3 separate regions of the Homo sapiens genome follow, and all the other regions are linked to region 2. Evidence: fine-mapped expression QTL. A gene starts in region 2. Each other region holds a variant in brackets. All regions are shown on one strand. Distances are between the middles of the regions.

What was found.
Region 1: its variant is fine-mapped to the expression of SNUPN in whole blood (INTERVAL, PIP 0.91).
Region 3: its variant is fine-mapped to the expression of SNUPN in pancreas (GTEx, PIP above 0.99).

The regions. Positions count from the first base shown.
Region 1 is chr15:75,995,087-75,997,844 of GRCh38, forward strand. The region is part of intron 3 of NRG4 (neuregulin 4); the gene reads right to left. Among named protein-coding and RNA genes, the nearest start is that of NRG4, 16 kb to the right of the region's middle. The variant C/T (reference allele first, on the strand shown) is at 1,729.
Region 2 is chr15:75,624,313-75,627,070 of GRCh38, forward strand. SNUPN (snurportin 1) reads right to left here and starts at 1,413. Exons shown (of 9, transcript NM_005701.4): 1 at 1,354-1,413. RefSeq lists a silencer at 892-941 and an enhancer at 1,592-1,781.
Region 3 is chr15:75,206,398-75,209,155 of GRCh38, forward strand. C15orf39 (chromosome 15 open reading frame 39) reads left to right here. Exons shown (of 3, transcript NM_015492.5): 2 at 1-2,427. Among named protein-coding and RNA genes, the nearest start is that of C15orf39, 5.9 kb to the left of the region's middle. RefSeq lists an enhancer at 878-927. The variant T/G (reference allele first, on the strand shown) is at 1,257.

The DNA.
Region 1 (2,758 bases), 370 kb after region 2:
CTGAGGTGGGAGGATTGCTTGAACCAGGGAGGCAGAGGCTGCAGTAAGCCATGACCGCACCACTGCACTCCAGTATGGGAGTCGTCTCACTCCAGAGTGAGACCCTGTCTCAAAAAAAAAAAGAAAGAAAGAAAGAAAGAAAAGCAGTTTATCTTGGCTCATGCTTCTGGAGGCTATACAGGAAGCATGGTGCCAGCATCTGCTTCTGGTGAGCACTCAGGAAGTGTACAATCATGGCAGAAGGTGAGGGGGAGCCAGTGTATCACCTGGTGAGAGAGGGAGCAAGAGAGAAAAGGGGAAGACCACAGACTCTTTTAAACAATCAGATCTCACATTAGCTAATAGAGCAAGAACTCATTACCATGAGGAGGGCACCAAGCCATTCATAAAGGGTCTGCCCTCATGATCCAAACACCTCCCACTAGGCCCCCCCGCCCCAAACACTAGGGATCATACTTCAACATGAGATTTGGAGAGAGGATACATATCCAAACTATATCACACCTCAACTATATTTAGGTTGTGTATTAAGTACAAGTGGGAAACTGATGTGATGTCTAATACTTAGAGCTGAAGGAAATAAGATTATATAATGCAAATTGAATTATAAAGTCAATGGATCAGAGTAGAATAAAGCAAAGTTCCTTTAAATAATAGAGACTAGCTGAATATGCATTAACATATCTAAAGAAAGAGCTGTCAGTCTGAGGAGTTGGTTGGCAAGGGACACTCACAGAAAGGAGAGGCACAGAGGCAAACATCGGCAGTGCCTATCTAAGCACTGTTAAGTAGAGAGGGTATTGTAGCCAGAAGACTTCATGCATTACAGTTCTAAGTCAGATTATCTCTCTTGTGGAAATAAATGCATCAGACTAATTACAGGTAGACTTTCATATTATATAATTCTTGTTGTTTTCTTGTTTTCTCTATATCCATTAAAATATTCTGATTACAAATTTGGCTTCCCATACATGTCAGTCTACAGAGAAAAAGAATGCCTGGCTCACATCAACTCAAGCCTGTGTCAGTTATATATCATCATACATTAACAAATTGAAGTATCCAGCCTGGGCAACATAACGAGGCCACGTCTCAATAAATAAATAAGAATGCTTACTTTAGACACTAGCTCTGTAAGCCTAATCAATGTGTATCTGCTGTGAGAGATGAGATCCCTCACAATGTACTTCATTTAACTCTTAACAATCTACACTGAGGGGAGACCTCAGATTGTGATAATACCATGGTCACACAGTACTCATTGGGGCTATTTATTCCCTAGATATACCAACTTCATTGAGTAGTATGAATCTTTTAACTACAAGAGTTTGAAGCTCAGTTATTCACATTATTAAACAAATGAGCCTTGCTTTTTAATAGAGCATGTGTGTTTAGCTATAGAAGACAGTGAAATAAAGAGATACAAAAGAACACACTTTTGAAAGGTCAGGAAACTAGATAATAGTTCCTGACATAAAATTTCTTAGAGTAGCAAAGAAGAGATTTGGTCACAAAATTGGAAAAAGTGCCAAATTTCTATTTGTAACCATTTATTTTTATAGCAACTAGTGACTTGCTTAGATCATTCGTCTACATAATGATAGTACTAGATCCCAACATTATATTTATTATTACTACATTTGTTTATAGTCTTGGTAGGAATCAGATGAAATGGCTGTGTCAGAATATGAAAATAAATTTGATTCTAGATCAAACCTTGAATGTTTT[C/T]GGTGAAATGTATTATAGGAATTATATCATAAAGATCTATAAATATCCATATTACACATCACTACTTGATGGCCAGAATTAGCTCTATATTTGGAATTCTCTTCTAACACATATTGGTTGAGAAACTTTGTAAAAAGGATGAGGTAGGTGTCAATGAGAGAAAAATTATTTTAATAGTATTTTTAAGGCTTTTTTTCATGATCTTCTCCCCATTTGAGACTTTTCCCACTATAATACTTAGTAGACTAAGAAAAGCTTGAGATTTCCAGAGAGCTGATGTTATACATTTAATGAGAGAAAAAAATATGTAAACTAAATAAGGGCAAAAATCATTTCAGTAACATTTCTGTACAAAATTACAAATAACTTTTTACGAGATAATTCATCTAATTTTCTCTGAGAAAATTTTTATTTTTTGATACTAATTCAACTCCATTAATATTTAAAAATCTGTATTGCAAAGATATATATTGCAAAGATATTCTTCATAGAATTTCATCTCATCATCTTCTTACCCTTCTTTGCTTGGTATTAAATACCCCTATTTTTTAGTGATTGAAATTTCCAAATCCTTTTCCATCTTGGTTTTTCTCAAAAATTCACTCGAGAAACATTTTTGAGTAGTTTATTAAATTCTATGATATATACTAGATGTAGAAAATTCAAAGACAAGAGAATTATTCAGTCCCAAGGGGCTTAGATTCTATTAGAGAACAACAGACACATAAACACTAAGTACAGTAGAGAGAGATATAAGATAGAAATACGTCTGGGTACAGTGTGAGCATATAATAGTCAACAAAGTTAATACTAGCTGCCTTTAATTGCAAACTTACAAATACTGGTGACTTCATACAATGAAAGTTTAATCCTTGCTCACACTACTGTCTAATGCCCAATGCCAGTCAGGCAGCCCTTCTCCATCTCTTGGCCCTGACACCTGGAGAACATGGCCTCCAAGGTCACTAAGGCAGGAAAAATGAGAGCTGGAGTTTTTCAGGAGTTGGTTTTTCAGGGCCAGACTTGTGAC
Region 2 (2,758 bases):
GCACTATCTTGGTGTGGGCTCCCGCTCTGCCAAGAACCACACAACCTTTGAAACTGATGTCCTGGGCCTGGCGCGGTGGCTCACGCCTGTAATCCCAGCACTTTGGGAGGTTGAAGCGGGCAGATCACCTGAGGTTAGGAGATCGAGACCATCCTGGCTAACACAGTGAAACCCCGTCTCTACTAAAAAAAAAAAAAAAAATACAAAAAAATTAGCCAGGCATGGTGACGGGCGCCTGTAGTCCCAGATGCTCGGGAGGCTGAGGCAGGAGAATGGCTTGAACCCGTAAGGCGGAGCTTGCAGTGAGTCGAGATCGTGCCACTGCACTCCAGCCTGGACTTCGTCTCAAAAAGAAAAAAAAAAGAAAAACTGATGTCCTGGATACTGGGGCGGTTCCTTTACCTTCCTTCAAGGCTGTTCTTGGCGGGTTCCTGCTGTTTCGTTTTGTTTTTTCTTTGTTGTTGTTGTTTTTTTTTTGAGACAGAGTTTCGCTCTTGTTGCCCAGGCTGGAGTGCAGTGGCATGATCTCGGCTCACTGCAACCTCCATCTCCCGGATTCAAGCGATTCTCCTGCCTCAGCCTCCCGAGTAGCTGGGATTACAGGCACGCGCCACAACGCCCGGCTAATTTTTTTTGTATTTTTAGTACAGATGGGGTTTCACCATGTTGGTCAGGCTGGTCTCAAACTCCTGACCTCAGGTGATCCGCCCACCTCGGCCTCCCAAAGTGCTGGGATTACAGGCGTGAGCCACTGCGCCCCGCCGGGCTCCTGCTGTTTCAACCCATTCCTTGGATGGTGCTGCCTCCAAGTGTTCGGACCTTAGCCCCAGGTGGTCTTAGCACCAGTAACCCCCGCTCCAACTCCCTAAAGTCCGACCCGCCCCAGGCCCCGCCCACGCTCCACCCTCCCTCCCTGTCTAGCCCCCTCCCCCATCCCCTTCCCCCTCCTTCGCGTCTCCCCATCCGGCGCCCCCGCCTCGCGTCCCCTGGGTCCGCATCCTGGCAGCCTCCGCGTTTCCCTACCCCTGCTACCGGGCTCCAGCCCCGGGGACGCTATCTGCTTCACTCGGCCGTGCGCGCCGCCACCGCCCCGCACTGCCTTTTTCTAGGCATGGGGTCATCTAGGCCATGCATGATTCGCCCCTGCCCCACAGAAGTCCCTGAGGGGTCCTGGCCGGACAGCACGGAATAGAAGAACGGAAACTCTCCCAAAAGGAGTCCCAGGCCTGGCTCTATCCCTCCAGATGACGTCCCAGGAGGCCAGAGTGCAGGGCCGGCCAGAGGGAGTCACAGTCCGGCACCGAGAGGCAACTCGGCAGCTGGCGGGGCCCGGGCTCGAACCCAGGGACTCACCCAAACCGAGGTGACCGTCGCACGCGCCGCCGCCACCGGGGCCGACGAATCACCTGCCCTGGGAAGCTAGGTCCGCCCTCCCCCCGCCCCCAGCTGCTGCCTCACCGCTGGGCCCACAGGCCTCGCGCCCTGAGTTTCCGGCTCCTCCCTCCTTTGCGAACGCTGGGAGTTCCGTTGCCTACAGGCCGTTATTTCCGCCTTCAACGGCTGGGGCATTTCCCATCGGCTAGGGAGGGGGTCTTCTTGCATTTGCTTTGCACTGTCCGGGACTCTTCCTGCTAGATGACTTGACCAGGCCGAGGCCTCCCTCCTGAACACAAGCTCTTCGGGGCTCCTTTCGCCAATGGGAGGAGGCTGATCTTGTGGCCGGGCATTCAACGCCCTGGGCCCTGCCGCCTCCCGCAGATCTTCCCGGGCCTTAGGGCTTCACCTGGAGTCCCCTTCCCCTCTTGGGCCCGTGCTCTTAAACGGGCAGTGCCAATTGCCTGGATTACTCCAACTAACCCCTCACACCCAAGTTTCAGACACAGACCTTCGCTCCCCCACTTGCCCTTAACAAAAGCAGATACATACCTCGATTACTGCCTGTTTGCTGCTTTTGCGAGCTTCTTTCCCACTCGGCTGCGGGCTGAGCAATGGTAGGGACCTGGCTTGATTCCTATTTAAGTAGCCAGAGTCCAGCACAAGGGATGGCGCTCAGTAGACCCTGCGTGAAGGAATGATTAAATTGGTGCAAAAGACTAGGGTAAGCGGCAGAGATTTAGGAGATTAAGTCCTGCCAGGGTGTAGCCTCTGCAGGGCGGGAAGGCTGAGATTACAATTTTAAAACTGAATATTTATTGAATGCTTACATTCAGCCAATCCCTGCTTCACACCCATCATCTCATTTAATTTTTTTCCTTTTTTTTCTTTTTTAAGCCAGTAGATATTAACTCTTAATCATGACATGAGGAAGTAGACACACTGAAGCTCAGAGAGGTTAAGTAATTTGGCCAAAGTAACACAGCTTTCAAGGAAAATGTTTGAATTTGCTGAAAGTTTGATGTATAGGGAAGTTGACTACCGATGTATGACAGAAGCAAAGTATCCACCTTTGGCACATTTTGCGTCCACGGAATGCTAAAATTTGGACTTGTGTATTTTATGCACATTACACCATACATTCAGACTAAAAAGAATAGGAAATTAGGCTGATGAAAGGCTATTACTAGACTGGTAAAAAGGGTTCTGGGGCCCTGGAAGGCCAATTTTTCTGGACGTGAGATTTTTTTTTATTTTTTTGAGATGGAGTCTCGCTCTGTCGCCCAGGCTCTGGAGTGCAGTGGCGCAATCTCCGCTCACTGCAAGCTCCGCCTCCCGGGTTCACGCCATTCTCCTGCCTCAGCCTACTGAGTAGCTGGGACTA
Region 3 (2,758 bases), 420 kb before region 2:
CCCAGGCTCACTCCTACCCAGGCCCACCACTGGCAGCACCCAAACCTGTCTACCGCAACCCTCTGTGCTATGGGCTCTCAACTTGTCTGGGGGAAGGAGCAGTGAAGAGGCCACTGGATGTTGACTGGACTCTGGCGACTGGGCCCCTGTTGCCCTCAGCTGACCCACCCTGCTCTCTGGCCCCAGCTCCTAGCAAGGGCCAGACTCTGGATGGCACCTTCTTGCGGGGGGTGCCAGCTGAGGGGTCCAGTAAAGACTCCTCAGGGAGCTTCTCCCCATGCCAGCCCTTCCTGGAGAAATATCAGACCATCCACAGCACGGGCTTCCTGGCCTCCAGGTACACAGGTCCTTACCCTAGGAACTCCAAGCAAGCAATGTCTGAGGGGCCCTCAAGTCCTTGGACCCAGCTGGCCCAGCCCCTGGGGCCACCCTGTCAGGACACCGGGCCCACCCACTACCCACCACCCCACCACCCACCACCCCACCCTCCACAGGCCCTGCCTTGCCCTCCAGCCTGTCGCCACCCAGAGAAGCAGGGCAGCTACAGCCCAGCACTCCCACTGCAGCCTCTGGGGGGCCACAAGGGGACCGGGTACCAGGCTGGTGGGCTGGGCAGCCCCTACCTGAGGCAGCAGGCAGCCCAGGCACCTTACATTCCCCCACTGGGGCTGGACGCTTACCCCTACCCCTCTGCCCCTCTCCCAGCACCCTCTCCAGGCCTCAAGCTGGAGCCGCCTCTCACTCCACGGTGCCCATTGGACTTTGCCCCCCAGACACTGAGTTTTCCTTATGCCCGGGATGACCTCTCTCTCTATGGAGCATCCCCTGGGCTTGGAGGGACACCACCTTCCCAGAACAATGTGCGGGCTGTGCCACAGCCTGGTGCCTTCCAGAGGGCATGCCAGCCTTTGCCAGCGAGCCAGCCCTGCTCAGAGCCTGTGAGGCCTGCACAGGAAGCCGAAGAGAAGACCTGGCTGCCCAGCTGCAGGAAAGAGAAGCTCCAGCCCCGGCTCAGTGAGCACTCTGGGCCGCCCATCGTCATCCGAGACAGTCCAGTTCCCTGTACCCCCCCAGCACTGCCCCCCTGTGCCCGGGAGTGCCAGTCTCTTCCACAGAAGGAGGGCGCAAGGCCACCCAGCTCTCCACCAATGCCTGTCATTGACAATGTCTTCAGCCTGGCCCCCTACCGTGACTATCTGGATGTGCCGGCACCCGAGGCCACAACTGAGCCTGACTCTGCCACAGCTGAGCCTGAC[T/G]CAGCCCCAGCCACCAGTGAAGGTCAGGACAAAGGCTGCAGGGGGACCCTGCCTGCCCAGGAGGGCCCCTCAGGGAGTAAACCCCTAAGGGGCTCACTTAAGGAGGAGGTAGCCCTGGATTTGAGTGTGAGGAAGCCCACAGCAGAGGCCTCCCCTGTCAAGGCTTCCCGTTCTGTGGAGCATGCCAAGCCTACTGCAGCCATGGATGTGCCAGATGTGGGCAACATGGTGTCAGATCTGCCAGGCCTGAAAAAGATAGACACAGAAGCACCAGGCTTGCCTGGGGTGCCAGTGACCACAGATGCCATGCCAAGGACCAACTTCCACAGCTCTGTGGCCTTCATGTTCCGAAAGTTCAAGATCCTCCGTCCGGCACCTTTGCCTGCAGCCGTGGTCCCGTCCACGCCCACCTCAGCTCCTGCTCCCACACAGCCTGCACCCACCCCCACATCTGGGCCCATTGGACTGCGGATTCTCGCTCAACAGCCCTTGTCTGTGACCTGCTTCAGCCTGGCACTGCCCAGCCCTCCAGCCGTAGCTGTGGCCTCCCCTGCCCCTGCTCCAGCTCCATCCCCTGCTCCGGCTCGAGCTCAGGCTCCAGCTTCAGCCCGGGATCCAGCTCCAGCTCCAGCTCCAGTTGCAGGCCCTGCTCCAGCATCTACTTCAGCCCCAGGGGACTCCCTGGAGCAGCATTTTACAGGACTACATGCGTCCCTGTGTGATGCTATTTCTGGCTCCGTCGCCCACTCTCCTCCAGAGAAGCTTCGCGAGTGGCTAGAGACGGCTGGGCCCTGGGGCCAGGCTGCGTGGCAGGACTGCCAGGGTGTGCAGGGGCTGCTGGCCAAGCTGCTGTCTCAGCTGCAGCGCTTCGATCGCACCCACCGGTGCCCCTTCCCCCATGTGGTGCGAGCTGGCGCCATCTTCGTGCCCATTCACCTGGTGAAGGAGCGGCTCTTCCCTCGGCTGCCACCCGCTTCTGTGGACCATGTGCTGCAGGAGCATCGTGTGGAGCTGCGGCCCACCACGCTGTCGGAGGAGCGGGCACTGCGGGAGCTCGCCCTGCCAGGCTGCACCTCACGCATGCTGAAGTTACTGGCGCTGCGCCAGCTGCCGGACATTTACCCCGACCTTCTCGGCCTGCAGTGGCGCGACTGTGTACGCCGCCAGCTGGGTGAGCATGGGGCAGCCCCAGTGGCCACCGGAGCTGTGTGAGCAAGTGACAGGTGTGTGTGCTGTGTGAGTGCGTCACAGCTGGGGCTGAGTGATTCCAAGGACTCCTGCCCGGGTAGGGGGCTTTAGGATGAGCTCTAGGTACCCCCACCCCTTGACCCTCCAGACAATCAGTGAGCACCTTCATAGCCTCTTTTGTAGGCTTCTGAACATGCCAGCTGCTCTGTCCCCATGGAAACTCCTCGGCCTCCCCTGGTGCTGCACCTTCTTGGATTCCCTCCTCCTCTGCCTGTGCCTTCTCCATCTTTGGTGCAGTGTTTCCGGCACTCTGG